Regions from separate parts of the Homo sapiens genome. Here regions 1 and 2 are each linked to region 3. The links come from fine-mapping of genetic effects on gene expression. A gene starts in region 3. Each other region holds a variant in brackets. All regions are shown on one strand. Distances are between the middles of the regions.

The links. PIP is the estimated chance that this variant, and not a neighbour inherited with it, causes the effect. A credible set is the group of variants that fine-mapping cannot tell apart.
Region 1: its variant is the best candidate, but not a certain one, in a credible set for the expression of KIF3B in putamen (GTEx, PIP 0.68).
Region 2: its variant is the best candidate, but not a certain one, in a credible set for the expression of KIF3B in whole blood (INTERVAL, PIP 0.55).

The regions. Positions count from the first base shown.
Region 1 is chr20:32,492,771-32,502,988 of GRCh38, reverse strand. The region is part of intron 4 of NOL4L (nucleolar protein 4 like); the gene reads left to right. Among named protein-coding and RNA genes, the nearest start is that of NOL4L-AS1, 63 kb to the left of the region's middle. RefSeq lists an enhancer at 5,528-6,044. The variant A/C (reference allele first, on the strand shown) is at 5,300.
Region 2 is chr20:32,385,812-32,396,029 of GRCh38, reverse strand. The region is part of intron 4 of ASXL1 (ASXL transcriptional regulator 1); the gene reads right to left. Among named protein-coding and RNA genes, the nearest start is that of ASXL1, 33 kb to the right of the region's middle. The variant A/G (reference allele first, on the strand shown) is at 4,166.
Region 3 is chr20:32,272,743-32,282,960 of GRCh38, reverse strand. KIF3B (kinesin family member 3B) reads right to left here and starts at 5,310. Exons shown (of 9, transcript NM_004798.4): 1 at 5,196-5,310. LOC124904885 (a long non-coding RNA gene) reads left to right here and starts at 5,418. Exons shown (of 2, transcript XR_007067561.1): 1 at 5,418-5,657; 2 at 7,319-7,542. RefSeq lists silencers at 4,935-5,114, 5,135-5,294 and enhancers at 4,948-5,458, 5,505-5,554.

The DNA of each region.
Region 1 (10,218 bases), 220 kb before region 3:
CTGGGTGGCCCTTTACCCTTTTTTAACTTGTTTTGATTTCTTTGCATTTATTTATTTTTTATGTTTATTTTTTATTTTGAGATGGAGTTTTGCTCTTGCTGCCCAGGCTGGAGTGCAATGATGTGATCTCGGCTCGTTGCAACCTCTGCTCTCAAGTTCAAGAGATTCTCCTGCCTCAGCCTCCCGAGTAGCTGGGATTACAGGCCCCGGCCACCACTCCCGGCTAATTTTTGTATTTTTAGTAGAGACGGGGTTTCACCATGTTGGCCAGGCTGGTCTCGAACTCCTGACCTCAGGTGATCCACCCGCCTCGGCTTCCCAAAGTGCTGGGATTACAGGGGTGAGCCACCACACCCGGCCTGCATTATTTTTATTTTTATAGATAGAATACTTTTTTTTTTTGAGATGGAGTCTCACCGTCACCTAGGCTGGAGTGTAGTGGCGTGATCCTCACTGCAGCCTCCGCCTCCCGGATTCAGGCATTTCTCTTGCCTCAGCCTCCTGAGTAACTGGAATTACAGGCGCCTGCCACCAAACCCAGCTAATTTTTGTACTTTCAGTAGAGACGGGGTTTCACCCTGTTGGCCAGGCTGATCTTGAACTCCTGACCTCAGGTGATCCGCCTGCCTCGGCCTCCCAAAGTGCTGGGATTACAGGCATGAGCCACCACACCCGGCCTCTAGAATACATTTTTTAAAATCATATAGAAAAATAGCAGACCCTGCCCCAGCCTCCCCACTTCAATTTCTACTCCCTAGGGACAGCCTCTTTTCTTTCTTATGTTTTAGCTGTCTCTTCTGGTATTTAACTCCTATTTTGGAATAACCTGCTTATACTATAAGTTCTTGATTTTTCAATTGGGGCTTTTGTTGTTGTTAATTTCTTGCTGTAGGAAATAAGTATTTGCACTCTTACACCCTCTCATAAATACACTTATTATTTCTCCTTCCTCCATCCTGCAACATATCTATACCTCTCTATTTAGATAAATTGCTATTCATTGTTTATATTATTATGACTGTGTGCATATTACTCATAGCTGACCCAATTAACATATGCTATGATTACATTTCCTTACATTTCCTTTCTTCGGATTCCCCAGAGTTAGTCATTGCCTCCTTTTCCCCATCCGTAGCTCTCTCTCTTTTGATATTGCCTATGCTGTGTGTGTTGTCATTTTTATTTTTATGTACTCAGATGTATCAATTTTTTCTTCAAATCGCTTCTGCATTTGAGTCTTAAAAAGGCTAACTCCACTCCATCCCCCATGTTTTCTTTTAGTATTTTTATGTTTTCATTTTTTTTTTGATAGACTATTTTTGAGAACAGTTTTAACTTTACAGAAAAATTGGGAAGATAGTACAGAGTATCCACATTGCCCACTCCTCGACACACAGTTTCCCGTATTATCAATGTCTTATATTAAGGTGATACATTTGTTACCACTAATGAACCACACTGATACATTATTGTAAGTAAAGTCTACAGTTTATTTAGATTCCTTTAGCTTTTACCTAATTTCCTTTTCTGTTCCAAGATTTCATCCAGGATACAACATTTAATTTTCATTGTAACATTTAATTCCATTTAATTGTCATGTCCCTTTAGTCTTCTTTGGGCTTTGACAGTTTCTCAGACTTTCCTTGTTTTTGATAACCTTGACAGTTTCGAAGAGTACTAGTTGTGTATTTTGTAGGATTTAGAAATTTGACATTTTTCTCTATATAAAACCGGGGTTATGGGTTATTAGGAGGAAGACCACAGACATGGAGTGTCATTTTCATCACATCCTGTTAAGGGTCCATAATATCAACATGATTTAGGACTGTTGCCATTGGCCTTGATCACACCTGGTTGAGATATTGGTTGTCAGGTTTCTCTCCTGTCAAGTGACTTTTCCCTCTTTCCACACTGTGCACTTGGGAAGGAAGGCACCGTGTGCAGCCCACACCTGAAGAGTGGGGAGTCATGTTCTGCCTTTTTTAGGGTGAATTATCAACGTAAATTATTTAGATTGCTTATGCATAGGAGATTTGTTTCTCCTCCCCCACTTATTAATTTATTCAGCCATTTATAGAAGTCGAGACTCATAGCTGTTTATTTTATGCTTTGATGATCATTCAATACTTCTTCATTTTGTTGTACAAATTGTTCTAGCTTTGGCCATTGGAGCTTTTTCAGTTGTTTCCTGTGCTCTTTTGCCATACCTCATTGGTGTTTGGGGTTTTTGTTTGTTCGTTTCTTGTTTTTTAGTGCTTCTTTGCTTTCTGGCACTGTAAGACTCCAGGCTCATCTTGCATATTTCCTGCCCCAATCCTGGAATCAGTGATTTCTCCAAGGAGCTCTGATTCCTTTTATTGGAAAACCATATTAAAAACCAAAATATCGGATCGAGACCATCCTGGCTAACACGATGAAACCATGTCTCTAGTAAAAAAAAAAAAAAAAAAGAAAGAAATACAAAAAAATTAGCTGGGCGTGGTGGCAGGCGCCTGTACTCCCAGCTACTTGGGAGGCTGAGGCAGAAGAATGGCATGAACCCGGGAGGCGGAGCTTGCAATGAGCCGAGATTGTGCCACTGCACTCCAGCCTGGGCAAGAAAGCAAGACTCCGTCTCAAAAAAAAAAAAAAAAAAATCTGGCTGGGCATGGTGGCTTACACCCATTATCCCAACACTTTGGGAGGCCAAGGCAGAAGGGTCTCTTGAGTTCAGGAGTTCAAGACCAGCCTGGGCAAACCTCATCTCTATATATTTTGTATAAAACAAAACAAAAAAACAAGATCTGGGCACTATGTGTGCCCATTGGTACTGAAGTATCCTTTCTTGCAGGCTCTTCCAGCTGACAGAGCAAAAAGCATACATGTTTTTATTTTCATTTTTTATATTTAATCTTTGATCCATTTGGAGCTTATGCTGACGTATTCTGAGATACAGATTCCGCTTAACCCTTTTGTCTCAGCATCATTTGTTAAATACTCCATTTTCCCCCACTGATTTGAGATGACACCTTTAAAACTTACTAAGTTTCCATCCAAAACAGAATCTACTTCTGTTTGGTCCACTGGGCTCCTTGACTATTCATGTAGCAGCTACCAAACTGTTTTAAGTGTGAAAACTTTATCATATGTTTTAATATCTAGTAGGAATTGTTCCTCTTTTGTTGGCTTTCTTTTTAAAAGTTTTGCTGGCTTGAAAAAAGGCATTACTTTGAAAAAAATAATTGTTCCTTTTTTTTTTTTTTTTTTTTTTGAGACAAGGTCTCCCTCTGTTGCCCAGGCTAGAGTGCAGTCGCAAAATCTTGGCTCACTACAACCTCCGCTGCCCAGGTTCAAGCAATTCTCCTGCCTCAGCTGACTGAGTAGCTGGGACTACAGATGCCTGCCACCATGCCCGGCTAATTTTTGCATTTTTAGTAGAGATGGGGTTTCACCATGTTGGCCAAGCTGGTCTGAAACTCCTGGCCTCAAGTGATCTGCCTGCCTCAGCCTCCCAAAGTGCTGGGATTACAGGCATGAGCCACCACACCCAGCCAAAAATTGTTTCTTTAATGCCTAAAAATGTTTGTATCCGCTTTTTGGTGGAGGAAAAATACTGCAGCAGCACCACTGATCTGACCACATGAGCATTATGTGAAGACACTTTATCCCAGGCCTCTTTGTTCACTGACAAACAGAGGTGGACTGAGAACCAGGAGCACCATGAGCCCAGTGTCAGGATCGGGGGGCTCTAAACATGGACAGCACAGCATTCCCCATCCTCCTAAAATGGTATCATGCAAAATAGGGCATTTATTTAAAAAAAAATTTTTTTTGGCCAGGAGCAGTGGCTCACGCCTGTAATCCCAGCACTTTGGGAGGCCAAGGTGGGCAGATCACAAGGCCAGGAGTTTGAGACCAGCCTGACCAACATGGTGAAGCCCCGTCTCTACTAAAAATACAAAAATTAGCTGGCGTGGTGGCAGGAGCCTGTAATCCCAGGTACTCAGGAGGTTGAGGCAGGAGAATCACTTGAACCTGGGAAGCAGAGGTTGCAGTGAGCTGAGATTGCACCACTGCACTCCAGCCTAGGCAACAGAGCAAGACCAAGACTCTGCCTCAAAAACAAACAAACACAAAAATTTTTTAAGTAGAAACAGTGCTTCACTTTGTTGCCCAGGCTGATCTTGAACTTCTGGGCCTCCCAAAGAAAATAGTGCATTTCTTTTTTTTTTTTTTTTTTTTTATTGAGACAGGGTCTCACTCCCGTTGCCCAGGGTAGAGTGCAGTGGTGCAATCACAGCTCAATGCAGCCTCGACTTCCCAGGCTCTAGTGATCCTCCCACCTCAGCCTCCCGAGTAGCTGGAACTACAGGCACACACCACCACACCTGGCTAATTTTTTGCACTTTTTATAGAGATGGGGCTTCACGTGTTGCCCAGGCTGGTCTTGAACTCCTGGGCTCAAGCGATCCTCCCACTTTGGCCTCCTAAAGTGCTGGAATGACAGGCATGAGCCACCATGCCCTGTGAAAATAGGGCATTTCTAAACTTGAGAGGGAATGATTTATCAGAAAGCTTTTTTTTTTTTTAAGAGAACAGAGAGAGGCGTGAAAAGCTCATTGTCAAACATCTTTTGTTATGGGACATTATTTTTGCAATCAGTATATGTTCTTGAACATCCTGGGGTGCTTTCTAGAAACTTACTACAATTTCCAAATTCTCACAGAAAATGAGCATTTCCTCTGTTTTGTGAGGGCAACCTGAGCTGGGAGAGGTCTGTGTCTTTTCTTTCCTCTCACTTCCCTGAAGCTGTGTGGGAAAGTGGAAAACAGCCACCACCCTGTCTGGAGAGCCAGTGTCTGGTGGGGTTGGCAGATACCCCGAACCTGAACAGCTCATTGTCCCCAGCAGCTCCTTGAGGCTCGAGCCCCTTCCGGGCTGCAGACCTCCACCCCTACAAATGCGAGAATGCCAAGGTGGCCTTTCAACTTTATTATCTGGGGGAAAAAATGCAGGAAGCACTCGTAATTTACTGGTGCAAGCAGGAGAGCTGCCTGGTGCCATAAGCAGCAATACTGCATGCAGGGCTGGCCTCGGGACGCTTTGTGTGTGTCAAGGGAAAAGCTTGCACAGGTCAGGAGCTGCTACCTGGGCGTCCATGAATGAAGGGGGGAAGTGGCTCTGTCCTGTCAGAGCTCTGGCAGTAAAACACCCCTGCCAGGCAGCCCAGGGAGCTGACTCCGGTCTGTTTCTAAGGACAAGAGAGACCTAACAGGAAAGGAGACGTCTTTCCTGGGCTGGGCCAGGAAGGAGCAGCTCA[A/C]AACATCCAGATGGTCCCTGTACTGATGGCTGCCCTTGTGACCGCCACAGCCTAACCAAGACCCAGAAGGGATTCGTGATCTTGTGGCTAAGTCCCGTTCCGTTTTGCAACTAAACTCCTCACTCCAGCTTTTGGGTGCCTCTTTCACCCAGAACTAGTGGGATATTTTGGGCAGGGTGCTTTTCTGCAGCCGTCCCTGGTTTTCCTTGCTTTTTATTTTGAATGCGGGACCCCTGATGGCTTTGTCAAGCCTTCTACTTAAGGCACTGAAACTCAGGCAGCTCAGCCCCCTGGCAGCTGAGCATTTAGTGGTTGTGACTTTTACACAGGTTCTTGACCCACCCTGACTCTTGTCAGCCTGATGGGTCCTTTTCATGTGGGGCCCAGATAGGCCCTGTCACCCCCAGCAAAGAGCAGCTCCAGGAGACCTGACTCCATGGGGCGGGTGGGTGGGCCAGGGCTTTGTAACCAGACCTGGAGGGTGCAGGAGGGTTTCAGACGCTTCAGCAGCTGATGTCTGGAGATCAATTAGAGATAATGGCTTTGGGTGGACTGGAAGAAGCATGGCCAAGCTTTTTCCTGGTCATGATTGTGTTTACCTCATTATCGGGCTTTTTTTTTTTTTTTTTTTTTGAGGGTAGGAGGGCACAGTATTGCTTTGTGAATTTGTGCTGTCTGCTTTGTTTTGCTCGGGGTGACTGGGTGTGGATCCCGGCAGGCGGGTAGCTCCCCGACCCCTATTCAGACTGAGAGGCACACAGCACAGCTGCTGCTCACGGCCGACCAGACCCTTGTCCTCCCTGCAACACAGCATTATGTAGTTTTAAAGAAATTTCCTAGGCCAGGTGTGGTGGTTCATGCCTGTAATCCCAGCACTTTTTGGGAGGCTGAGGCGGGTGGATCACCTGAGGTCAGTTCGAGACCAGCCCGGCCAACATGATGAAACCCTGTCTCTACTAAAAATACAAAAAATTAGCCAGCTGTGGTGGCAGGCACCTGTAGTTCCAGCTACTCGGGAGGCTGAGGCAGAAGAATCACTTGAACCTGGGAGGCAGAGGTTGCAGTGAGCTGAGATCATGCCACTGTACTCCAGCTTGGGCAACAAGAGTGAAACTCTCTCAAAAAAAAAAAAGAAAGAAAGAAATTTCTTCCTTCCTTCACTCAAAAATCATTTCCGAGGTTCCTACTACATGCTGGAGGTCATTCCAAGCACGGAAGATACCACAGTGAATGAGACAGATAAGGTACCCATCCCTAGGAGCTCACAGGCCTGGAGATGATAAACAAGGCAATATAAAAAAATATGCAAAAGGAGGAAATTTGGGGTAGATAATTAAAATAGAGTAAGATGACAGACTGTGCCTCAGGGCAAGAAGGCCTCTCTGAAGAGGCAGCATCCGAGCCAAGGCCTGAATGGTGAGAAGTGGCCAGCCCTGCAGAGATGAAGTGGGAGGGCTTTCCAGGCACAGGAGACAGCACATGCAAAGACCCTGGGGTAGGAACAGCAGTGGGGCTCAGATAGAGGAGTAAGGGGGAGCTATGCCTGGGAGCCGTCTTCAAAGGCAGCTCTCCCAGGGCCTGCCAGCCGGGTGCACATGTGTTGTGATGTGAAGCCTAGTGGTGATCTTTCTCTGCCAGAGGGAAGCAGGGCAGGGACCTGGGCCTGTCTCAGGTCGAAAGTGGAGATGAGCACCTGAGAGGGAGTCCAGCGACTCTGGTTCTAGGTGTGCCTCTGCCCCACGAGTCATCTAACTTCTTTTATTGGGGTGCAGTGATATGATCACAGCTCACTGCAGCCTTGACCTCCTGAGCTCAAGCAATTCTCCCACCTCAGCCTCCTGAGTAGCTGGGACCACAGGTGCTCAACACCGCGCCCAGCTAATGTTTGTATTTTTTGTAGGGATGGGGTCTCGCCATGTTGCCCAGGCTGGTCTTGAACTCCTGGGCTTAAGCATTCCCCCACCTCAGCCTCCCCAAAGTGCTGGGACGTGAGCCACTGCGCCCCAGCCATCTAACTTCTTCATGCTGCAGCTTCCCTGTTACTAGATCAGCAGGTTTGGGTCAGACATCTGTGGCTTTCAAATTTTACATTTTGATGGAGGAACCCCTTTCTTCAAGGGACTGTCTTCTGGGGAGGAAGTTGAGTGGGTCAGGGGTCAGCAGCAGACAGGCATGTTGCTGGCAATGCTGGGCACGGAGCCCAGAGCCCGCCTACCTACCCCTTTCGTCCCCAGCAGCCCATCTGCCTCTCCTGCACCACCTCAGGAATAGGCCCGGGCAGCCCTGAGCTTTGGCTTGCGGTGCCGAAGATAGTCAAGGAGAGGGGCTCGATCCAGCACAACCACAAGCAGCCTCCTCGACAGATATGAGTCACAGAGCCCATGCCCTGCCAGCCCCATGGTCATTCTAAGGCTCTGGCATTTAGAATGGCTCTAAATACCTCAAGAGATAAGATAGAAACAGAAGATGTTCTTTAACTGGGATACTCCTGTGGCTGAGGAAGTGCCCAGGCACACTTGTGCTGCAGCCGTGACAGTTTTCCCTCCTTCAGAGTCCACAAGTGAGGGAACTAAATGCTTGTCTGCTCCCCAGGCACCACAGTACGCACAGCAGGTGCCTGGACGTAGCGTAGCACCCCTGTGTCCTCTTCAAAGAGTCAAGAGGCTCCTGTGTCCTCTTGAAAGAGAAAAGGCCACATGGGAGTGGGGGATCCTTGCCATCTAGTCCACCCGCGGACAGGAGCCATGTGAATAAGCCAGGAATGCTTTTGACTACAGGCCCCCAAACCCAGTTGACTATAGCAAAACATGAAGTTATTTTACTCCTAAAACAAGAAGAATGGAGGAGCCGCCGCTGGTGCCATTTGCAATGTTGGGTTGGTGTCTCTGTGATGTTATTGAGGCTTTTCCTCATGGTTGCAAGTTGCCTGCTATTGCTCCAACCTTGTCCACATTCGAGGCATTGTGTTGATGTCTCATTGCTGCAAAAGGGTCACGTGGTTCCCAGTTGTAAGGGAGGCTGGGAAAGAAAGAATTTCATGTTTCTACCCTCTGTGGTTGAAAAAGATAAGGGAGAATGTTGATTCAGGGCATAATATCAAGAAAACTGGTTCACAGTCTCTGCCACAGCCTGGGCACCATCAACTAAACTTTGACAATCACTTTGGGTGTTAAGATGCCGAAGGCTTGGGCAGAGAAAAAGAATGGAAAAGAAAGGAAACGGGGAAAGTGGGGAGGAAGAAGAGAGGAGAGGGAGGTAGGCAGGGGAGCAGGAACAGCAATTGTTGGGGGCCTTCTGTGTGCTGGGTACCCCCAGACACAGAACTCAGTTCCTCAGCACACAGGGAAACTGAGGCTCGGCTTTAGAGAGCTTAAGTAATTTGTTTGTGTGTGTGTGTGTGTTGTGTGTTTTTTTTTTTTTTTTTTTTTTTTTTTTTCCCGAGATTATCTCACTCTGTGGCCCAGGCTGGAGTGCAGTGGCATGATCTCAGCTCACTGCAAGCTCCACCTCCTGGGTTCAAATGATTCTCCTGTCTCAGCCTCCCAAGTAGCTAGGATTACAGGCATGTGCCACCACACCCAGCTAATTTTTGTATTTTTAGTAGAGACCAGGTTTCACCATGTTGGTCAGACTGGTCTTGAACTCCTGACCTCAGGTGATCCACCTGCCTTGGCCTCCCAAAGTGCTGGGATTATAGGCATGAGCCACTGCGCCTAGCCAGTAATTTGTCTGAAGTCACAGAATTAGTAAGAAAGAGAGCCCTAGTCTCTCCAATCTTAATGCTGTTATTTCTCAAGGGAAGGGGTGGGGAAAGAGAAAGGAAAAAGAAAGCAACAGTCAGGGTAGGGACAAGCTGAGGCCGCAGCAGCACCAGCACCATCGGCTCCACATGGACAGACCCAGGTGTGCTTATCTCACCACTGCAGTCCCTGCACCTGGACCGGGCCTTGGAGCATAGTAGGGGCTCAATAAATGCGTGTGGACTGATGACTGAGTTATTACTTAGTTTTCGTAGTACCATCACTATCCATAACTATGGTTCGGGCGGTGCTCTGTGCCCAGCACCAGTCCAGGCCTCTTCAGCTATCGCTGCATTTAGGCCTCACTGCAACCTTCAAAAACAAGTCCCTGCTGTTGTTTCCTCATTTTAGAGATGAGGAAACCAAGGCTTGGAGAGTCAAGTCACCTGCCTGAGGTCACACCGAGCAAGGGCCTGAGTGCAAACAGAGCGTGTCCGCAGCTGCCCACTCCCCTCCACACCTGGACATGACCCCACACACTAGATTCAGCCCCAGAAAGGTCCCCATGCAGCATCCCGGGCCCCAGAGCCTTGGGCCATCATCCACACCGGAGCTGTGGGCTCTGTCATGAAGGGACTGCAGGCCTAGGCAGAAGGTGCTGCCTGCCTCTTTCTCTTGGTAACCTGCCCGTTTCCCTGCATGGCTTCCTTGGACCGAGTGAACGTAAGTTAGTCTCACACCCCCACAGCCTGTGGAGGGTCCTTACCTCTCCTCACCTGCCGGAGAGCCAGCTAGAGTTTCATCCCTTCAGGCTTCCAAGGCCAGCCTCCTTCCAAGGCTTGTATGGAGAAGCCCTGGGGTCCATCCCAAGGCAGGGCCTCACAGCAGTCCTAGCCCATTCCCAGGTCTTGGCCCAAGGGAAATCTCTGGCTGCATCTGACTCGCACTGGTGGATTCCTCCTGCTCTGCTGGAGGTCGGTGAAGCGCAGCACCACGTGGCCTGGCTCAGTGGTCTCACCTTAGCAGGGCCCACCACACACCCTGGAGACCCACACATCTTGGTCCAGCACAGCCAGCAGCTTCTAGCTCCATGATTGTGGACGTGTCACCTGCTCTCTGAGTGCCAGTTTCTCCACTCTTGGGTGACTGGGTGAGTCACTTAATCTTCTCCCAGAAGCC
Region 2 (10,218 bases), 110 kb before region 3:
GTCAGGGGTTTGAGACCAGCCTGGCAAACATGGTGAAGCTCTGTCTCTACTAAAAATACAAAAACTAGCCAGACATGGTGATGCATGCCTGTAATCACAGCTACTTGGGAGGCTGAGGCAGGATAATCGCTTGAACCTGGGAAGCGGAGGTTGCAGCGAGCCAAGATCATGCCACTGCACTTCAGCCTGGGTGACAGAATGAGACTCCGTCTCAAAAAAAAGAAAAAAACTGAATTTTTAAGGATAAAAGGTATAATTCTGGATAAGAGTAACAGATTTAACATGGGAAAGATAAAGACTAGTGAAATGAAGATCAGTAGAAACTACCCAAAACAAAGAGAATCAAATGACTAAAAAACATAACAGTGCATCAGTGAGTTGTATGACTACTTCAAGCAGCCAAATATACATGTAATTACAGACTCCAGATGCGGTGGGGAAGTACAAAAGAAAAATATTTCAAGAAATAGTAGCTGAATACGTAAATTTCATCCATGAAGCTCAAGAGAATTCAAACACAAGAAATATGACGCAAACTACAACAAAGTATATAATAAACACATTGCTGAAAAAGCAGTGATAAAAAGAAAATCTTAAAAATTAACCAAAAAAGGCAAAAAAGATAAATTTGCTCGCTGAAGAACAAAGATTAAAATAACAACAGATTTTACAGGAGAAATAATGCAAGCTAGAGACAGTGGAGCAACATCTTTAAAGTACACAATGAAAAAAACCTGTCAACCTAGAATTCTGTATCAAAGGAATATATCTTTCTAAAAACAAGAGGAAGTACTTTTTCAAACACACCAAAGCTTAAAGATATCACCAGCAGACCTACACTACAAGAAACACATTAAAGGAAGTCCTCTGGCAGAAAGAAAATCTGAACTGACGAGAAAAAACTGAAGAAAATCTGGCAGATGAGAATCTGGAACCGCTCATAGGCAATAAAGAACACCAGAAATGGAAAACATATAAAGTAAAAGACATTTTTTCTTACTTTTAAAATCTTTTTAGGCCAGGCATGGTGGCTCATGCCTGTAATCCCAGCACTTTGGGAGGCCAAGACAGGCGGATCACTGGAGCTCAGGAGTTCGAGACCTGCTGGGCCAACGTGGCAAAACCCCATCTCTACTAATAATACAAAAATCAGCCAGGCATGATGGGGCGCACCTGTAATCCCAGCTACTCAGGAGGCTGAGGCATAAGAATCACTTGAACCCAGGAGGCAGAGGCTGCAGTAAGCCAAGATTGCACCACTGCACTGTAGCCTGGGCAACCGAGTGAGACTCCGTCTCAAAAAAAAAAAAATTGTTTTAAAAAAATTGACTACTTAAATGAAAAATAATAATGTATTGTGGAGTTTACAACATATGTAAAAGTGAAGTGTATGACAAACATAGCACAAAGTCTGAAGGGAAAATGAAGTGTACTGCTATAAGGTTCTTGTAATATAGGTGAAGTGGTATAATATTAAAGACTGAGTTTCACAAGCTGAACTCAATAAACACTAAAGCAGCCACTAAAATAACAAAGTACTAATGAGCCAAGAAAGGACTTAAAAATGAACCACTAAAAAATCCTCAATCCAGGCCAGGCATGGCGTAGCTCACTCCTGTAATGCCAGCACTTTGGGAGGCCAAGGGCAGGGATCACTTGAGGTCAGGAATTCGAGACCTGCTTGGCCAACATGGCAAAAGCCCATCTCTACTAAAAATACAAAAATTAGGCCAGGCACGGTGGCTCACGCCTGTAATCCCAGCACTTTGGGAGGCCAAGGCGGGCAGATCACAAGGTCAGGAATTTGAGACCAGCCTGGCCAATATAGTGAAACCCTGTCTCTACTAAAAATACAAAACATTAGCTGGGTGTGGTGATGGGCGCCTGTAATACCAGCTACTTGGGAGGCTGAGGCAGGAGTATCGCTTGAACCCAGGAGGCGGAGATTGCAGTGAGCCGAGATCGCGCCACTGCACTCCAGCCCAGGTGACAGTGCGAGACTCTGTCTCAAACCAAAAAAAAAAAAAAAAAAATAGCCAGGTGTGGTGGCACGCACCTGTAATCCCAGCTACTTGGGAGGCTGAGACAGGAAAACTGCTTGAACCCAGGAGGCAAAGGTTACAGTGAGTTGAGATTGCACCACTGCACTCCAGCCTAGACGACAGAGTGACAGTCCATCTTAAAAAAACAAAAACGAAAAAAACACCACATCAGACAAATAGAAAAGATGGTTGTTTAAACTCTATAAAAATCAGTAAACATCCAGCCGCAGTGGCTCACACCTGTAATCCCAGCACTTTGGGAGGCTGAGGTGGGCGGATCACAAAGTCAGCAGTTTGAGACCAGCCTGGCCAATATGGTGAAACCCCATCTCTACTAAAAATACAAAAATTAGCCGGGTGTGGTGTCAGGTGCCTGCAGTCCCAGCTACTTGGGAGGCTGAGGCAAGAGAATGACTTGAACCCGGGAAACGGAGGTTGGAGTGAGCTGAGATCGTGCCACTGCACTGCAGCCTGGGCGACAGGGCGAGACTCCATCTCAAAAAAAAATCAGTAATCACATTAAACATAAATAGTCTACAAACTCCAATTAAAAGGCAAACACTATCAAACTGGATAAAAGCAAGATCCCAAACACATGATGCCTGGGAAAAAAAACCACTTTAAACATAAAGACACAGGTGATAAGTTTTTTTAAAATATAAAAATATATGCCAAACACTAATCAAATGAAAAGCACGAGTAGCTATATTATGAGACAAAGTAAGTTCTGTCATTTCAAAATGACAGAGACCAATTCATCAAGATGACGACAATCATAAATGCTTATGTACCTTATAAGTAAATTTCAAACCAAAAACAAACAGAATTGAGATTTTAACACCTCTCTCTATAATTGATAGAACAGAAAATCGGTAAGAATACAGAAGACTTAAACATTATCAATCAACAAGCAAAACAGAATTGAGATTTTAACACCCTCTGTCTATAACTGATAGAATAGGAAATCGGTAAGAATACAGAAGACTTGAACATTATCAATCAACAAGCCAATCAACATTAATAGAATGCTCTACCTAACAACAGTAGAATACACATTCTTTTCAAGTGCCCGTGGAACCTTTATCAAGACACCTTATTCTGATCCATAAAACAAGTCTCAATCAATTTAAAAGGATTCAAATCATATAAGGTATGTTCTCTTACCACAATGGAATTAAATCAAAAATCAGTAACAGTAAGATCTCTGGATTTTTATTCCCAAAATATAATATCACACTTCTAAATAATCAGTAAGTTAAAGAATAAATCAAAAGAAAAATTAGATATTTTAAGCTGAATGAAAATTAAAACATAGCATATCAAAATGTGTGTGTGCATTAAATGTCTATCTTAGAAAAGAGGAAAGATTTCAGGGCTGGGAGCAGTGGCTACCCGCCTCAGCCTCCCAGCACAGGCGTGATCTGCCCGCCTCGGCCTTCCAACACTTTGGGAGGCCGAGGCGGGCAGATCACGAGGTCAAGAGTTCAAGATCAGCCTGGCCAACATAGTGAAACCCCATCTCTACTAAAAATACAGAATTAGCTGGGCATGGTGGCAGGCACCTGTAATCTCAGCTACTCGGGAGACTGAGGCAGGAGAATTGCTTGAACCCAGGAGGCAGAGGCTGCGGTGAGCCAAGATTGCGCCACTGCACTCCAGAGTGGGCAACAAGAGCAAATCTCCATCTCGGAAAAAAAAAAAAAAAATCAGCTAGGCTTGGTGGCACACGCCTGTAATCCCAGCTTCTCGGGAGACTGCAGTGAGATGACTGCTTGAGCCCAGAAGTTAGAGGCTTCAGTGAGCCATGATCATGCCACTAGCACCCCAGCCTGGGTGGCACAGCAAGACCTTGGCTCTAAAAATAAATAAATAACAAATAGCTAGATGGTGGACTTAACCCAACCATATCAATAATTAAATACACATGGTCCAAGCATCCCAAGTAAAAGACACATTAGGAAAAACTAGACACACATTAGGTCCAAGCATCCCAAGTAAAAGAATTAGGGAAAAAAAAAAAATCAAGGTCCAACTACAAATATAATGAAACAGACAGTATAACACAAAAGGATGGAAAAAATATACCATGCAAAAACTAAGCACTGAAAAGAACTGGAGTGACT[A/G]TATCAATATCAAAGTAAATTTCAGAAAAAAGTATTGCCAGGAAGAGCAGAAATTTTACTAAAACACAAAAACCTTGGCTGGGCTTGGTGGCTCACACCTGCAATCCCAGCACTTTGGGAGGCCAAGGCAGGAGGACTGCTTGAGCTCAGAAGTTCAAGACCAGCCTGGGAAACATAGCCAGACCTTATCTCTACTAAAAATCAAAACTTAGCCAGGCATGGTGACACACACCTGTACTCTCAGCTACCTGGGAGGCTGAGGTGAGAGGATCGCTTGAGCCTGGAAGATCGAGGCTGCAGTGAGCTATAATATAATCTTGCCATTGCACTCCAGCCTGGGCAAGAGAGTAAAGCTCTGCCTCAAATACAACGAAAACAAAAACTTGAATTTAAGATGGTGAAGCCACTTTGGAAAACAGCTTAGCTATTTCTTTAAAAGTTAAACAGAAATTACCACCCAACCCAGCAATTACTCCAAGGTTTATCTACCCAAGAATAATGAAACTGTATGTCCACATAGAAACTTACACACAAATATTTATTCACAGCAGCATTACTCACAGCAGCCAAAAGGAGGAAGTAGTCCAAATGTCTATCAACTGAAGAATGAATACGCAAAATGTGGTACATCTATACAATGAGATACTATCCTGCAATATACAGAAATAAACTGCTAGCCAACTGTAATGGTTCACACCTGTAATCCCAGCACTTTGAGAGGCATAGGTGGGAGGATTCCTTGAGGCCAGGAGTTTGAAATCAGCCTGGGCAACAGAGTGAGATCCTGTCTCTACCAAGAAAAAAAAAAAATTAGCTGAACATGGTGGTGTGCGCCTGCAGTCCCAGCTACTCAGGAGGCTGAAGTGGGAGGATTGCTTGAGTTTAAGCCTGCAGTGAACTATGATCGTGCCGCTGCACTTCAGCCTGGGTGACAGAGCAAGACCTTGTCTCCAAAAAGAAAAAAAAGAAAAAAGAAATAAATTGCTAATACACATCACAAGACAAATAAATCTCAAATACTTCACACTAAGTAAAAGACGCCAGACTCAAAGTGTTATATAATGTAGGATTCAATTTATATGGCATTCTGGAAAAGACAGTACTGCAAGGACAGAGAACAAATCAGTGGTCACCAGGAGCTGGGGGTGAAAAAAGAAGCTGACTACAAAAGGATACAGGGAAAGTTTCTGGGATGATGAAACTGTTCTGGATCTTAATTATGGTGGTGGCAGGGCACACTGGCTCATTCCTGTAATCCTAGCACTTTGGGAGGCTGAGGCAGGAGGAGCACTTAAGGCCAGGAGTTTGAGGCTGCAGTGAGCTACGATCATGCCACTGCATTCCAGCCTGGGTGACAGTGAGACTGTCTCAAAAATATATTTTTTTAAATTAAAAAAGAATCATGGGTGGGGATTACATATCTGTATATAGATCTGTCAAAACTTACAAGACTATACACAAAAAAAGGTGAATTTCCTGTATTTTAAAATGGAAGTATGTTAGCACCAATAAAATATACAGCATACCCTGACTTATGATTTTTTGAGTTTACGATGGTATATGAAAGTGATATGCATTGAAGAGAAGCCATACTCTGACTACTCATACAACTATTGTTTTTCACTTTAGTATTCAATAAATTATATAAGATATTCAACACTTTATTACAAATAGGCTTTGTGTTTGATGATTTGCCCACTGTAAACTAATTTAAGTGTTCTAAGTGCATTTAAGGTAGGCTAAGTTAGGATTTACAGCAGGTTAGTCATATTAAATGCATTTTCAACTTAATATTTTCAACTTAAGGTGGGCTTACAGGGACACAAAAACATCATAAGTCAAGGACCATCTGTACTAGGATAATTGCATTCAAGCCATATATGGCATATATTTAAATAGCACTGTTAAAATACCAAATATAACTTTAAAACAAATTTGAACTAAAGAAATCAAACTCTCACAAAGCTGTATACTTGTACACTAAAAAGGGTGAATTTGGCTGGGCGTGGTGGCTCATACCTCTAATCCCAACACTTGGGGAGGCCAAGGTGGGTGGATCACCTGAGGTAAGGAGTTTGAGACCAGCCTGGCCAACATGGTGAAACCCTGTCTCTACAAAATTAGCCTGGCAGGCACCTGTAATCCCAACTACTTGTGAGGCTGAGGCAGGAGAATCGCTTGAACCCAGTAAGTAAAGGTTGCAGTGAGCCGAGATTGTGCCACTGCACTCCAGCCTGGACAACAGAGCGAGACTCTGTTTCAGAAAAAGAAAAAGGCGGGGCAGGGGGGCGGTGGTAAATTTTACTGTACGTAAATTATGCCATAAACTGAGAGGGAAAAAAAACAAAAACAAGATACTATTATACACTCACAATACTCAGTCCCATTCCCAGCAACATATACACCCCAGAGAAGTGAATGCACACATGCATCAGGAGACACATACACAAGCACTAAATGCAGCTGTTTGTTACAGCAAGAACCAGAAACAACCCAAATACATGCTAAGAACAGGTAAATCATATGGCACGTTGATAGCATAAGATGATACACAGCAGAAAATATGAAGTATTTCTATAAATGCACCAACATAGATCAAGCTCAGAAATGAGAGGCAAAAGCAGCAAATCAGAGAAAATACATCCACCAGTATGATTTCATTGACATAAAAATATATTTTAAAGCAGGAAAAATTATTATTTAGGACTTAAACTTCAGTAACACATGTGGGTTAAAAGCAAAAGAATCATTAATATGAAAAATCTGAATAGAGGTTTCTAAAGCAGTGAGGGAAAGGAAAATGCTCAGAGGCTCCAAAAGGGTGTATACTCTAGAGGGGTGGGGGAAAATAAATAAATAAAATAGAGTGTAAAAGATGTTTTGTTTGACGATGGTTGGATGTGGGGGCGTGCAATTTATTTTTAGCTATTATTCTTTAAAGGAACACAAACTCTGTATATACATATTTTAAAATAAATTATATATTTCATAACAAGGAAAGTAAAAACAATATATTCCCACAATAAAAACATACATGCCCAGGTCTTATAGGCATGATCTACCAAAAAGAATGAATAATCACTATCTTAAAGAGACTACTACTGAGAATCAAGAGAGGAAAAACAGCACAGCTTGTTTTGATAATAAAACTGGAAAAGGCCTGAAATTAGAATGTAACACTTGTAAATACAGATGCAAAAATTCTCAATAATTTATAACCTAAATCCAGCAATGTATATTTAAAAGGAAAATCATGTTGAAGTACCATTTATCCTAGGAATGCAAGGATGCTTGAGCACTGGAAAAAAAGAATCTATTAACATAACTCACTATATTACCAAATTAAAGGAAATAAAATACATCTCTTTACCCAAAGGAATAAAAAATTTGGCCAAGCATGGTGGCTGACGCCTGTAATCCCAACACTTTGGGAGGCTGAGGCGGGCAGATGACCTGAGGTCAGGAGTTCGAGACCAGCCTGGCCAACATGGTGAAACTCCATCTCTACTAAAAAATACAAAAATTAGCCAGGCATGGTGGTGCATGCCTGCAGCCCCAGCTACTCGGGAGGCTGAGGCAGGAGAATTGCTTAAGCCTGGAAGACAGAGGTTGCAGTGAGCCAAGATCAAGCCACCGCATTCCAGCTGGGGTGACAGAGCAAGACTCTGTCTCAAAATAAATAAATAAATAAATAAAATATATCTTCGGTGTTGAGGAAGGTGGCAAGAATGGAAGGAAGGAGACCAGTTAGGAAGCTACTAAAATAACCTAAGAGATGAAGGTGGCTTAAACCACTCTGGTGGCAGAGAGAGTGATAAAATGAGATATATTCTGAAGATAGAGCCAACAGGATTTATTCGTGATTACATGTGCCACAAGAGCAAAGGGACAGACTCCAAAATTGATGACTCCCAGGTTTCTGATTTAAGCAACTTAAAAAATGGAGTTCCCACTAATTTATACAGCCAACACAAGGGTGGAACAGGTTGGTTTTGCACATGTTAATTTTGAGATGCCATTAGATATCCGAATAGAGATACTGAGGAGGTAACTGAATATATGAGTCTGACGTTCAAAAGGAATATCCAGGATGGGGATATAACTTGGAAGTCATCAATGACAGAGAAACAAATGGAGAAGCAAAGAGAATAGTTAGCAAAGCAAAGGAAGATGAGATCTAAGCGTTGCAGAGGGAGATGCTGAAAAGAACCAAGCAGATTCATCCCCTGAACTGCAGACAGGCTAAGAGCTTAAACCAGACAAGGATGGAGTATGGAGTGGAAAACATGGGGATTATTTAAAGTGTGCATCAGGAGATAGACATCTCTACTTCAGAACCATGCATCGAAGTAAAAACCACTTCCCCACTTCTGTAAGAGACAAGTGAAGTCACAAAACCACAATGCACTGAATTCGCCAGTAGTATTTAAGAGCCTGACTCTCAAGCATCACACCTCAATCAAGGATCAGCAGGCATCTGAGTAAGGCTATGATGTGAAAGAAACAGGGCATGACAAATAGAAAAGCCTGGGCTGGATATTATATACATAATATTAAATTTTTTATGTATTTTATTTATATTTTGAGACAGGGTCTTGCTCTGTCTCAGTCTCGGCTCACTGAAACCTGTCTCCCAGTTCCAGTGATTCTCGTACCTCAGCCTCCTGAGTAACTGGGATTATGGGGGTGCACAACCATGCCCAGTTAATTTTTGTTTTTTTGTTTTTTTAGTAGAAGGGGTTTCACCATGTTGGCCAGGCTGGTTTTGAACTCCTGACCTCAAGTGTTCCTCCCACCTCAGCCTCACAAAGTGCATGAGCCACTGCACCTGGCTTAAATTTTTCATTTGCATTATGAAATGTTTCTAACATAAAGTTAAATACTGACAGTATCAGAACAAACAGCTAGTTACGCACCAGCTGGAAAAACTGTAAAATCATTTCCCAGACCTGAGACACATGAGTTGCTAGACCTAATAGCACAAAGGGCGAGAAAAGACCCACATCAAGGTACATAATCGTGGAAAAAAAGATCCTAAAAACTTTCGGGGAGAGGTAGCAAAAAAAAAAAAAAAAGAGAGAGAGAGGTCATACACAAAAGATCAGGAATCAATATGGCATTTGATTTCGATTTCAGAAGTAACAATGGGCCGGGCACGGTGGCTCTCATCTGTAATCCCAGCACTTTGGGAGGCCAAGGCTGGCAGATCACTTGAGGCCAGGAGCTTGAGACCAGCCTGGTCAACATGGCGAAACCCCATCTCTAATAATTATACAAAAAACAGCTGGGCATGGTGGCACACACCTGTAATCCCAGCTATTCCAGTGGCTAAGGCATGAGAATTACTTAAACTCGGGAGGTGGAGGTTGCAGTGAGCCGGGATCATGCCACTGCACTCCAGCCTGGGCAACAGAACAAGACTCTGTCTCAAAAAAAAAAGTAACCCCAAATATGACTGTTTTCTTTTGAGAAAAAAAAAAACTTACACTTTGGAGGTTTTCAAACATTCCATTCCATGAGAAAAAGATCTTGCTAATAAACATTCCATACTACACATCTCCTTGTTGACACTAAAAATTACTATTGTAAACCAATTCAACTGTTGGCACTGAGAACTGCTGCCACAGCACCTCTTCTATGTGTTTTTCCACTGCCTTTATTCAACAAACATTTATTGAATACCTACCATAAGAGCTCCTAGGGATATAAACAAGAACAAAATAATACAGATTCTCTGCCCCTAAGGCCCAGTCAGGAGAGACACATCAAACAATCACCCAAATAATTATAAACTTGTGATAACAAGTAAGGTTTGGACACAGGAAAATCCAATTTAGAGATAAATGAAGGATCCTCTTAAGAACTGAGGTAAGTTGTCAGCTCTTGAAACCTGTGGCCAGGAAAAAGTGGAGGAGAAAGAGTTCAAAATGGGAAATCCTGAAACTGGAAAAAGCTTAAGGAATTCAAATTACTGAAAGAAGGGCAGTGTGGCCAAACAAGGTTTGGATTTTTCTGCAACTGCCATGGGAAACCATGGATAAGTATCAAACATA
Region 3 (10,218 bases):
TGTAATGCCCAGATTTACAAGTACAGTTACTGGAATACATAACAATGAAGCTCGAATTCCCTTGCTCAGAAGAGATTCAAGAATCCTCTAGGAATTCTGGTAGAGTACAATAGGTTTTCCAGGGATTCTGAAGTCAAAAGCTCTGAAACTTCAGAACTGTCATTTGGTGACCAGGAAAGAACCACTTTGGCAGGGAGAATGTGGCCATTTGGCACACCAAGTGAACTTCACTAGTGATTCCGCTCCCTCTTCCAGAGCTGGCCAGGCTCCCTCAGCCAAGATCCCGAGTCAGCACTGCAATGCCAACAGCACAAGACAGAAAGACAGATGGGTACTGCCCTGGCAAAGCCCACACCTGCCGCTCCACAGGCTGGCAAAAAGCCAGACTGTAGAAAAGCAGGACTTTTTTTTTTGGTTCACAGTAAGAACGTCAAGCTTCAATCAGTTGCACCTGGCTAGCTTCTGCCAGCATAATCTGGGATTTCCTCCCCACAGACTATAAAGTATGATGCTTATACCTTGTGCCTCTCCTCTACAGGGTTCAAAATAAACTATGAATAATTCTTCCTCATAGGGCCCCTTACCAAAAAGTCCTTTCATCATTTCAGAGGCAGATGGCATCTCTAACATCTACTTAATTGCTCAGGCCAAAAACCCAGGAGTCATCCTTATTCTCTCACCCTCATCCCGCCATCCTGCTGGTTCTACCTCCGAAACACATCCCCAATCCGTCCTCTTACCATCTCCACTGCCACCAACCTAGAAAGCCACTATCTTCTCTCACCTAACCTCTTAACTAGCCTCCTGGCTGCCACTCCTATGCCCTCTAAAATTCACTGCCACAAAGAGGCCAGAGTGATTTTTTTAAAAAACAAAAATAGATCATGCCACGTCCCTTCTCCAGAACCTCCAATGATTTCCACAGCTTTTAGAACAAAATCCCAACTCATTACTCTAGCAGACAAGGTCCTGTATGATCTGAGCGCTCCCTACCACTTCCATCCCCTACATCCACCCACCTCCCCACTCTGCCTTTGACTCACCTGTCCCTGCCATTGTAAGCCTTCTTGCAGTTTCTGGAACTTACCAAGCTTGTTGCCACCTCACAGCCTTTACCCTTGCTCTTCCTTCTGACATGTCTTCAAATGGCTGGCCCGTCCCTGGGAGCAAATCTCAGCAAAAACGTCACCATCCTAGCAAGGCCTTTTCTTTTTCTTTTTGTTTGTTGGGTTTTTTTTCTTTTTGAGATGGAGTCTCGCTCTGTTGCCCAGGCTGGAGTGCAATGGCGCAACCTCGGCTTACTGCAGCCTCTGCTTCCCAGGTTCAAGCAATTCTTGTGCCTCAGCCTCCTGAATAGCTGGGACTACAGGCACGTGCCACCACACCCAGCTAAGTTTTGTATTTTTAATAGAGATGGGATTTCACCCCAGCACTTATTCCTCATCCAAATTCCCTTGTTCATTTACTGCTGTATTTTTCTGTTTGCTGCCAGTAGAATATAAGCTGCATGAGAGCAAGGGACTCTGTACCTTTCTACCATGATATCTCCAGGCTAAAACAGAACTGACACATTCTAGGTGCTCAGGAAATACTGAATAAATACAATCCGGGCAGGATAGTGGTAAGTACACTGAATTTGAAGACAGAAGACTGGATTTCAACGTGAAATGGGCCACTCAATAGCATCATGGCTTCTTGGCTTCCATTCAGATTCCTCGACTATAAAACAGAGATCCTAATCTGCACCTTACCTTCCTTGAAGGGACACAGATAAGATTAAATGAGTAAAAGCATGTGTAAGCAAGTGTAGGCATTTTTGTAAGCCATTAGGCACCTTATTGTTATTGTCAAGTATTGCTACTCTCTGTTACATAAGACGGGGTCTTTCTCAGGGACTTGCGAATTAATGGATGAAAAGGCTTAGGAAGCAATCTGAGGTTTCTAATCCAGGCACCTAACAGAAGTCTAGGGACACAACAAAACAGATTAGAATCAGTGGCTTCACTCTGCAGCCAAGGCAAACATAAGATATGAATTCATTTAAAGATGTCAAATGCAGTAATTTGCAAATTAAGCTCTGAGTTCCTCGAAGGATATGGAGATGGGATTGACCTCCACATCCTCCATGTGCCTAGCATAAGGGGATTTAGCAAATATTTACTGAATTGGATGTTGAGCTACTAAACCTAACGTCCTACCATCAGCTTTCATCTTTCTTTCTTTTTTTTTTTTTTTTTTTTTTTTTTGAGACGGAGTCTTGCTCTGTCGCCCAGGCTGGAGTGCAGTGGCGCAATCTTGGCTCACTGCAAGTTCCACCTCCCCGGTTCACGCCATTCTCCTGCCTCAGCCTCCCGAGTAGCTGGGACTACAGGCGCCCGCCACCATGCCCAGCTAATTTTTTTTTTCTTTTAGTAGAGATGGGGTTTCACTGTGCTAGCCAGGATGGTCTCGATCTCCTGACCTCGTGATCCACCCGTCTTGGCCTCCCAAAGTGCTGGGATTACAGCCGTGAGCCACCATGCCTGGACAGCTTTACCTTTCTTTGCAACCCATTGTGGCACATGATTACAGGTTCCTGGGGCCAACTGTATAAAAATATCAACATTTATATAATGCCATGATGGCTACTGTTTCATGCTTGCAATGACATTATGGTTGACGGACCTGGTATTATCACATACTTTAATTTATTCTTTCACCAACCATACACGGAAAATACAGCACAAGCACCACGTTAAACCCAAATAACGATAGCTAATGTTTACCAAATATGCTGGGCACTTCACATATATTAAGTTCAAATAAATCCTCAGAACAGCCATACATGATAATAAGGCCACAGGTAATAAGGCCTATTACTATCCCCATTTTACAGATGAGGAAACTATACCACCAAGGGGTTCAAAATGAACTATGAATAATTCTTCCTCACAGAGCCCCTTACCAAAAAGTCCTCTCATCATTTCAGAGGTACTGAGCATCATTTCAGAGGTAAAGTAGCACCTCTTTGCTCAGTAGCACACAGCTTGGAAGTGGCAGAGCCAAGATTTTAGTCCAGGTAGTCTGATTGCAAGCTTTTAACCACAACTGCATAACAGCACTGAAAGGGCCTTCAGTATAATCTAGCCTAGTCCCCTCATTTTAATGAGGAGGGAATGAGGGACAGAGAAGCCCTCTTTTAAAGATTCCAGCTCTCAGGCTGGGCACAGTGGCTCATGCCTGTAATCCCAGTCCTTTGGGAGGCCAAGGCAGGCGATCACCTGAGGTCGGGAGTTTGAGACCAGCCTGACCAACATGGAGAAACCCCATCTCTACTAAAAATACAAAATTAGCCGGGCATGGTGGCACATGCCTGTAATCCCAGCTACTTGGGAGGCTGAGGCAGGAGAACTGCTTGAACCAGGGAGGCGGAGGTTGCAGTGAGCTGAGATGGCACCATTGCACTCCAGCCTGGGCAACAACAGCAAAACTCCGTCTCAAAAAAAAAAAAAAAGATTCCAACTATTTTCTGAGATCCTCACTTTGGGTGGTATCTATTTAAATAAAGCTTTACCTGAGATCTTGTTTCCTTGCCTTTTAACTTCTAGCCAGTTAAAAGTAACAAAAGAATACCCCTGTGGCCTTATAATAGCAACTGTTGCAAAATCAGAGGCAACAGTGAATGGGGGATAAAATACAGGATTTACCTAGAAACACGTCCACTTCCATCACTTAATAGATACAAGATTCTTAGGCAATGACTGGGTGTGGTGGCTCACGCATGTAATCCTAGCACTTTGGGAGGCCGAGGCAGGTATATCACTTGAGGCCAGGAGTTCGAGACCAGCCAGGCCAACATGGTGAAACCTTGTCTCTACTAAAACTACAAAAATTAGTGGACGAGGTGGTGAACATCTGTAGTCCCAGCTACTCGGGAGGCTGAGGCAGGAGAATCGCTTGAACACACGAGGCGGAGGTTGCAGTGAGCTGAGATCGCGCCACTGCACTCCAGCCTGGGCAACAGACTAAGACTCTGTCTCAAAAAAAAAAAAAAAAAAAAGGATTCTTAAGCAGGTCCTTCCCTTTACTTTTCTGAACCTCAGTTTCCTCATCGGCAAAATGAGGATGACATCACCAGGCACCTGGCAAAGTCTACATAAAGATTAAATGAAATAATATGCCTGGTAAAGTGCTTCTTAATCATATGCTTGTAAATAGTTATTACTGCTTTAAGCACTTCCCAAAGGACACAAAGATGCCTTTTTTCTTCTGGAAGGGTCAACGAAGCCCAGGTAGAAAATGAGACCATGACCCCAGCTATCTACAAGGGGTTGACCTCAAAGAGTTTCCCAGGACTACTTGTAGAAGTACCTCCCTTGCTCTGAGCAGAATGGAGAAGTAAAACCGGGGTTGGGGGTTGGCATTGCAGTAGGACTACCCATATGAGCTGGCACTCTACACACCTACACCTTACCTGTCCCAAAGTCATCTCCTCCTGGAAGTCTTGCCCTCCTACCCTGGACGCCTCATAATAGCTGGTTGAGCACTTACTATGTGCCAAGCTACTTGACATACCCAGTCTCACTGATTTCCACAGTAGTCTATTACCTCATTTCACAGATAAGGAAAAGAAGACTCAGAGAAATTAACTTGCCCAGGGCCACACAGTTACTAAGTGGAAATGCCACGTCTCTAACTCGCTCAGACTTCAAACTGCCCTCTTGGTCTCCCATCTAGGGTGCCCTAAGAATTCTCCCTCTCCCCATTTAGGGCACTTTCACATACACTTCTCATTATCTTTACCACTCTGAGCAGCAATGTTAGGACCCCATTGAATAAACAGGTCAGCTAAGGCCAGGGAGGTGAAAAGACTTGCCCAAGGTCACACAGCAAGCCCAGCACAGCGCCGAGGTTCGGACCCCAGGCTCTCGCTTCCCCGCCCTCCTCCCAAACTGGGGCCCTGACCACCGCCTCAGGGCCCCCAGGTGGGCTGCGACCCAAGGTGGCCGTGTCTGGGGGTCGGGCCGCGACCCTGCCAGGGGAAGGAGGGGCAAGGCCGTCCGGACTACCAAAGGATGCCTAGGAGGCAGGGCAGAGGATGCTCCGGCTCGCGGGACAGCAAAGCCAGGCAGAGGCGCGGGCGCAGGTCGCAGGGAAAACCCCAGGCGGCCACAGGATTAGCCCTGCTCGGTGGGCGCCCGGCCCCTCCGACTCACCTGAGGCCCGAGCCGAAAGCGGGCGGCGGCGGCGGCGGCGGCGGCGGCGGCGGCGGCGGGGGCGGCGAACCCCTGGCTCAGCCATTCCCCGCTGCCCCGGATGGGGAGAGACAGTGGCCGCTCACTTCCTTAGCAACCTGGCTCGGCGACCCACTTCCTTAGCAACCGGTGTCAATTTCAATAACTTTATTGGCACACGAGCAGAGGACAGGGAAAGCCGGCTGGAGGGGTCTGGGCGGGGCTCAGGTCGGTGCTGGTGTTTAGCGGGGGCCCAACACACCTCGGTCTCCTCACCCACCTAAGCGGGGAGAGTGGCGCACAACGTGGCCTGACTCCATCCTCTGGTATCTCGTGCCTCAGTTTCCCATCTGTAAATGGAACACACGCGATTTCAGCCGCCGTTCAACCTTTCTAAAAGCTTTCACATCCATTATCTGACTGGTGTCTCAAACTGCTACTGAGGTAACTCCCATTTAGGGTGCCCCCAGTGACTCAATACGAACACCTATAGGCACCCTTGTTGTAGCTTTCCTGTCCTTCACCCAATCCAGTCAGTCACAACCGCCCCAGGCAAGGCCAGGCCACGCTCATCTCTAGCCTGCCTGAAATATCTGGTCTGTTTCCATTCTTTTGTCCAGCTCTGTCCGAACAATCCATTTTCCATAAGGTGGCCAGAGTAATTATTTAAAACAGATCATGCGGCCAGGTGCGGTGGCTCCCGCTGTAATCCCAGCACTTTGGGAGGCTGAGGCAGGTGAATCACCTGAGGTCAGGAGTTCGAGACCAGCTTGGCCAACATGGCGAAACCCCGTCTCTAATAAAAATACAAAAAATTAGCCGGGCGTGGTGGCGCATGCCTGTAGTCCCAGCTACTCGGGAGGCTGAGGCAGGAGAATCGCTTGAACCCGGGAGGCAGGGGTTGCAGTGAGAGAGATGGCACCACTGCACTCCAGCCTGGGCGACAACAGCGAAACTCCGTCTCAGATATAAAGATTAAAATAAATAAATAAATAAATAAATAAATAAAACAGATCATGCCACTTTCTGATTAATACTCGATTTAATGGAGTCTCATTGCTCTTAGAATCAAATATGAAGTCCTTATTACTTCCTGCAAAATTCGTTAAAACTCTATTCCAACCACACTGGCCTAGAAGGGCAGGTTCCAACCCCCATGGAACTTACACCTGCTGTTCCCCACTAAATAGAAACTGCATAAGAGCAGTCTTTTATTTGTTCACTCTTGTATCCACCATGCCTGGAACCAAGCTTAGTCAATAGTAGTTGCTGAACAAATATGTTTTGCTCCTTGAATAAATGAATACCTGAGATGGTCTTCTTCATCTGCCTACAACTACTTTTTGCCTGTTGTGGCAGATATTGCTACTTCCTCTCAAAAACGTTATTTCTTCCTGCTCCTGGACACACAACTAGACAGTATTTCCCAGCCTTCCTTACAGTTCAGACCAAGTTCTGGCCAATTAAATGTGATGTGTGCTATTCTCAGGCCTGGCCCATTAAAACTCCCACATAATTTGATTTACACTTTCTCTACAGTGAAGAAGTTTATTTTTAAATAAAATAATAAAGGAAATACCAAAAGAGACTGCACCCAGCCTCTTTTGGTATTTCCTGAAGCTAATAATTGCCTCATTTTTTCCCCCCTTTCATTAGCTTTCTTTGCAGATATTGTTAATTTTTTCCTATGTGGTTAATAAATTAGACAAAATAATCAGCAGTGATTTTTCCAGATGTGTAACATAACAATTCGGCTAGGCATGGTGGCTCATGCCCATAATCCCAGCACCTTGGGAGGCTGAGGCAGGCAGATCACCCTGAGGTCAGGAGTTCAAGACCAGCCTGGCCAACATGGAGAAACCACGTCTCTACTAAAAATACAAAAATCAGCCAGGAGTGGTGGCAGGCACCTGTAATCCCCACTACTTTGGAGGCTGAGGCAGGAGAATTGCTTGAACCTAGGAGGTGGAGGTTGCAGTGACCCGAAATAACCCTATTGCACTCTAGCTTGGGTGACAAGAGCAAAACTCCATCTCACAAAAACAACAACAACTTAAAAAAAAAAAAAAAGTTCATGAGTTCTCTTTTGTTTTTTTCTCCTGAAGGCTTCAGCTCTGATCTGGACCAGTGCTCTCCAGGCCTACTGCACAGCTGTCATACTGAACTTTCCTATATCCTACACCTGGTTGGGATTCCCTGTGCCCTGGACCTTGTGTCTCAAACTTCTAGATTGTGGATTTACTCTGTCATCTCTGTGCAGCACATCTTTCTGTAGATTCCTGAGAAAGGTTGCAAAGAAGCAAATATATTTAGTCCTTGTATGTCTAAATATGCATTTATACTGTTTTCACACTTGATTAATAGTTTAGCAGGGTATAGAAATCTAGGCTGAAGGCCAGGCGCCATGTCTTATGCCTGTAATCCCAGCACTTTGGGAGGTCGAGGCAGGCAGATCACCTGAGGTCAAGTGTTTGAGACCAGCCTGGCCAACATGCTGAAACCTTGTCTCTACTAAAAATACAAAAAAAACATTAGCTGGGCATGGTGGCACATGCCTGTAGTCCCAGCTACTCGGGGAGGCTGAGGCAGGATAATCACTTGAACCCAGGAGGCAGAGGTTGCAGTAAGCCAAGATTGCACCACTGCACTCCAGCCTGAGCGACAGAGGGAGCCTCCATTTCAAAAAAAAAAAAAAAAAAGAAATCTAGGCTGAAAATTATTTCTCTCAGAATTTTTAAAACATTGCATTATTGTTTCTAGTATCCAGATTTAAGACATCTAATGCCATTCTTAATCCTGTTGCTTTATATGTGTCTTGTTCTTTTTTTATTTTTAATCTTTGAAAACTTTTAGGCTATCATCTTTATCCATAATGTTGTATTTGATGATGACTCCCCTCAGTGAGGCTTTTCCTCACTTGTGTTAGCTGGGCCTTTTCAATCTGGAGACTTATATCCCTCTAATCTAGGAAATTTTCTTGTATTATTTTTTCGATAATTTTCTCCCCTCCTATTTTTTTTTCCCCTGAAACAGTGTTGTGCTATGTTGCACAGGCTGGAATGCAGTGGCATGATCATGGCTCACTGCAGCTTCAAGTGATCCTGCCACCTCAGCCTCCCGAGTAGCTAGGACTACAGGTGCATACCACCATGCCTGAGTAATTTTTCTATTTTTTGTAGAAATGGGGTCTCACTGTGTTGCCCAGCTGGTCTCAAACTCCTGGGCTCAAGCAATCCCCCTGCCTCGGCCTCCCAAACTGTTGGGACTACAGGAATGAGACACCAGACTTGGCTCTCCCCTCCATTTTTTTCTCTTTCTGGAATTTCTCTTAGTCAGAAGTTATACTTTCCAAACTGAGTTTCTAATTTTCTCTGTTTTTCTCTTATTGTCCCTCTTTTTGGCTCTTTTGTTCTACTCTGTGGGAGATTTCCATCCATATCTTTATTTTTAGTGTCTATCTCTTCTATGGAAGAATCTGGGCTCACCTTTTAGTCATCAAATCAATATTCCCTGCAGACATTTGGGTCATAACTTCCTCCCCCTGTTAAGTCAGTTACTACTTCCCCTTCTGTCCCTGTTTTCTAAAAACTTGCTGAAATCCCTGGGCCACTAATGTCTCCTTTTCATTCCTATTCATGTTCTGGGTTAATACATTTTTTATTCCTTATTGCCATATAGATGGGGTTCGAGGGAGAAAAAAATAAATACGCATCATCAATCCACTATGTTTAACTGGATGTGTTTACTGCTATTTAACAAAAATGTATTGTGTTCTTCAAAACAGCTAGAAGACCTGAAATGTACCCAACACATAGAAATGATAAATACTTGGGTGATAGATAACCTAAATACCCTGACTTTATCATTACACATTCTATGCATGTAACAAAATTGCACATGTACCCCATAAATATGTACAAAAACTATTTAAAAATTTTTTTAAACAGGTAGGTAAAAGGTATGAACAGATAGTTCAGAGAAAAGGAATAGAAAATATTGCTTTTAAACATAGGAAAAGGAAAGATACTTATGCTTACTCATATTAAAGAAATGAAAATTAAAACAACTTTTTTTTTTTTTGAGACAGAATATTGCTCTGTTGCCCAGGCTGGAGTGCTGTGGCGCAATCTCAGCTCACTGCAACCTCTACCTCCCGGGTTTAAGTGATTCTCATGCCTCAGCCTCCTGAGTAGCTGGGATTACAGACATGTGCCACCATGCCTGGCTCATTTTTGTATTTTTCAGTAGAGGCAGGGTTTCGCCATGTTGACCAGGCTGGTCTCGAATTCCTGACCTCAAGTGATCCACCTGCCTCAGCCTCCCAAAGTGCTGGGATTGCAGGCATGACCCACTCACTGCACCTGGCCGAAAAAAGAACTTTGGTAAGGCATTGTTGATGACGGTCTGGTCTTGATTCTGTCCTTAGCAAGCTGAATAAAGCTGTGTATTGAAGTGGGATTAGTAGTAGTAGCTGTACAGTTGTAGGGTGACTAACTTGTTCTAGTTTGCACAGGTCTGTCCCTGTTTTAGCACCAAAAGTTCCATGTCCCAAGAAACTCCTTAGTCCAGGCAAACTAGGATGAGTGGTCACCCTAGTATGATGGGGTAACTTCTATATTACCAAGTATGTTTCCACTCCTGGCATTTCCTTTCCATACTGTGTCCTCTTTTCCATCTAACCTGGACTGTGAGGTATTTATTGCTCAGAAAAGAGTTATTTCAGTAGAAAAATAGAGAAAGGACTTTCTGAGCCCCAGAATCTTGGGGAGGAGACTCAGGGAATGAAAGAAGTTTTGAAAAGTCAGAGTAGGGCTTCCAAACCTCTCAATTCTGGAGATTTGCTCAGTTCAATGAAGGGGAGAGATGGTGAGGATGCAAAAAGAGGAAGGAGGCCAGTGGGGCTGGAAAAAAAGGGTCCTGGAGAGATCACATGGACCAGAGCAGAGATCCTCCTTCCTACCTCCCCAAGAGCAAACTCTAGCCTAGAAATGATCTAATTCCAGCG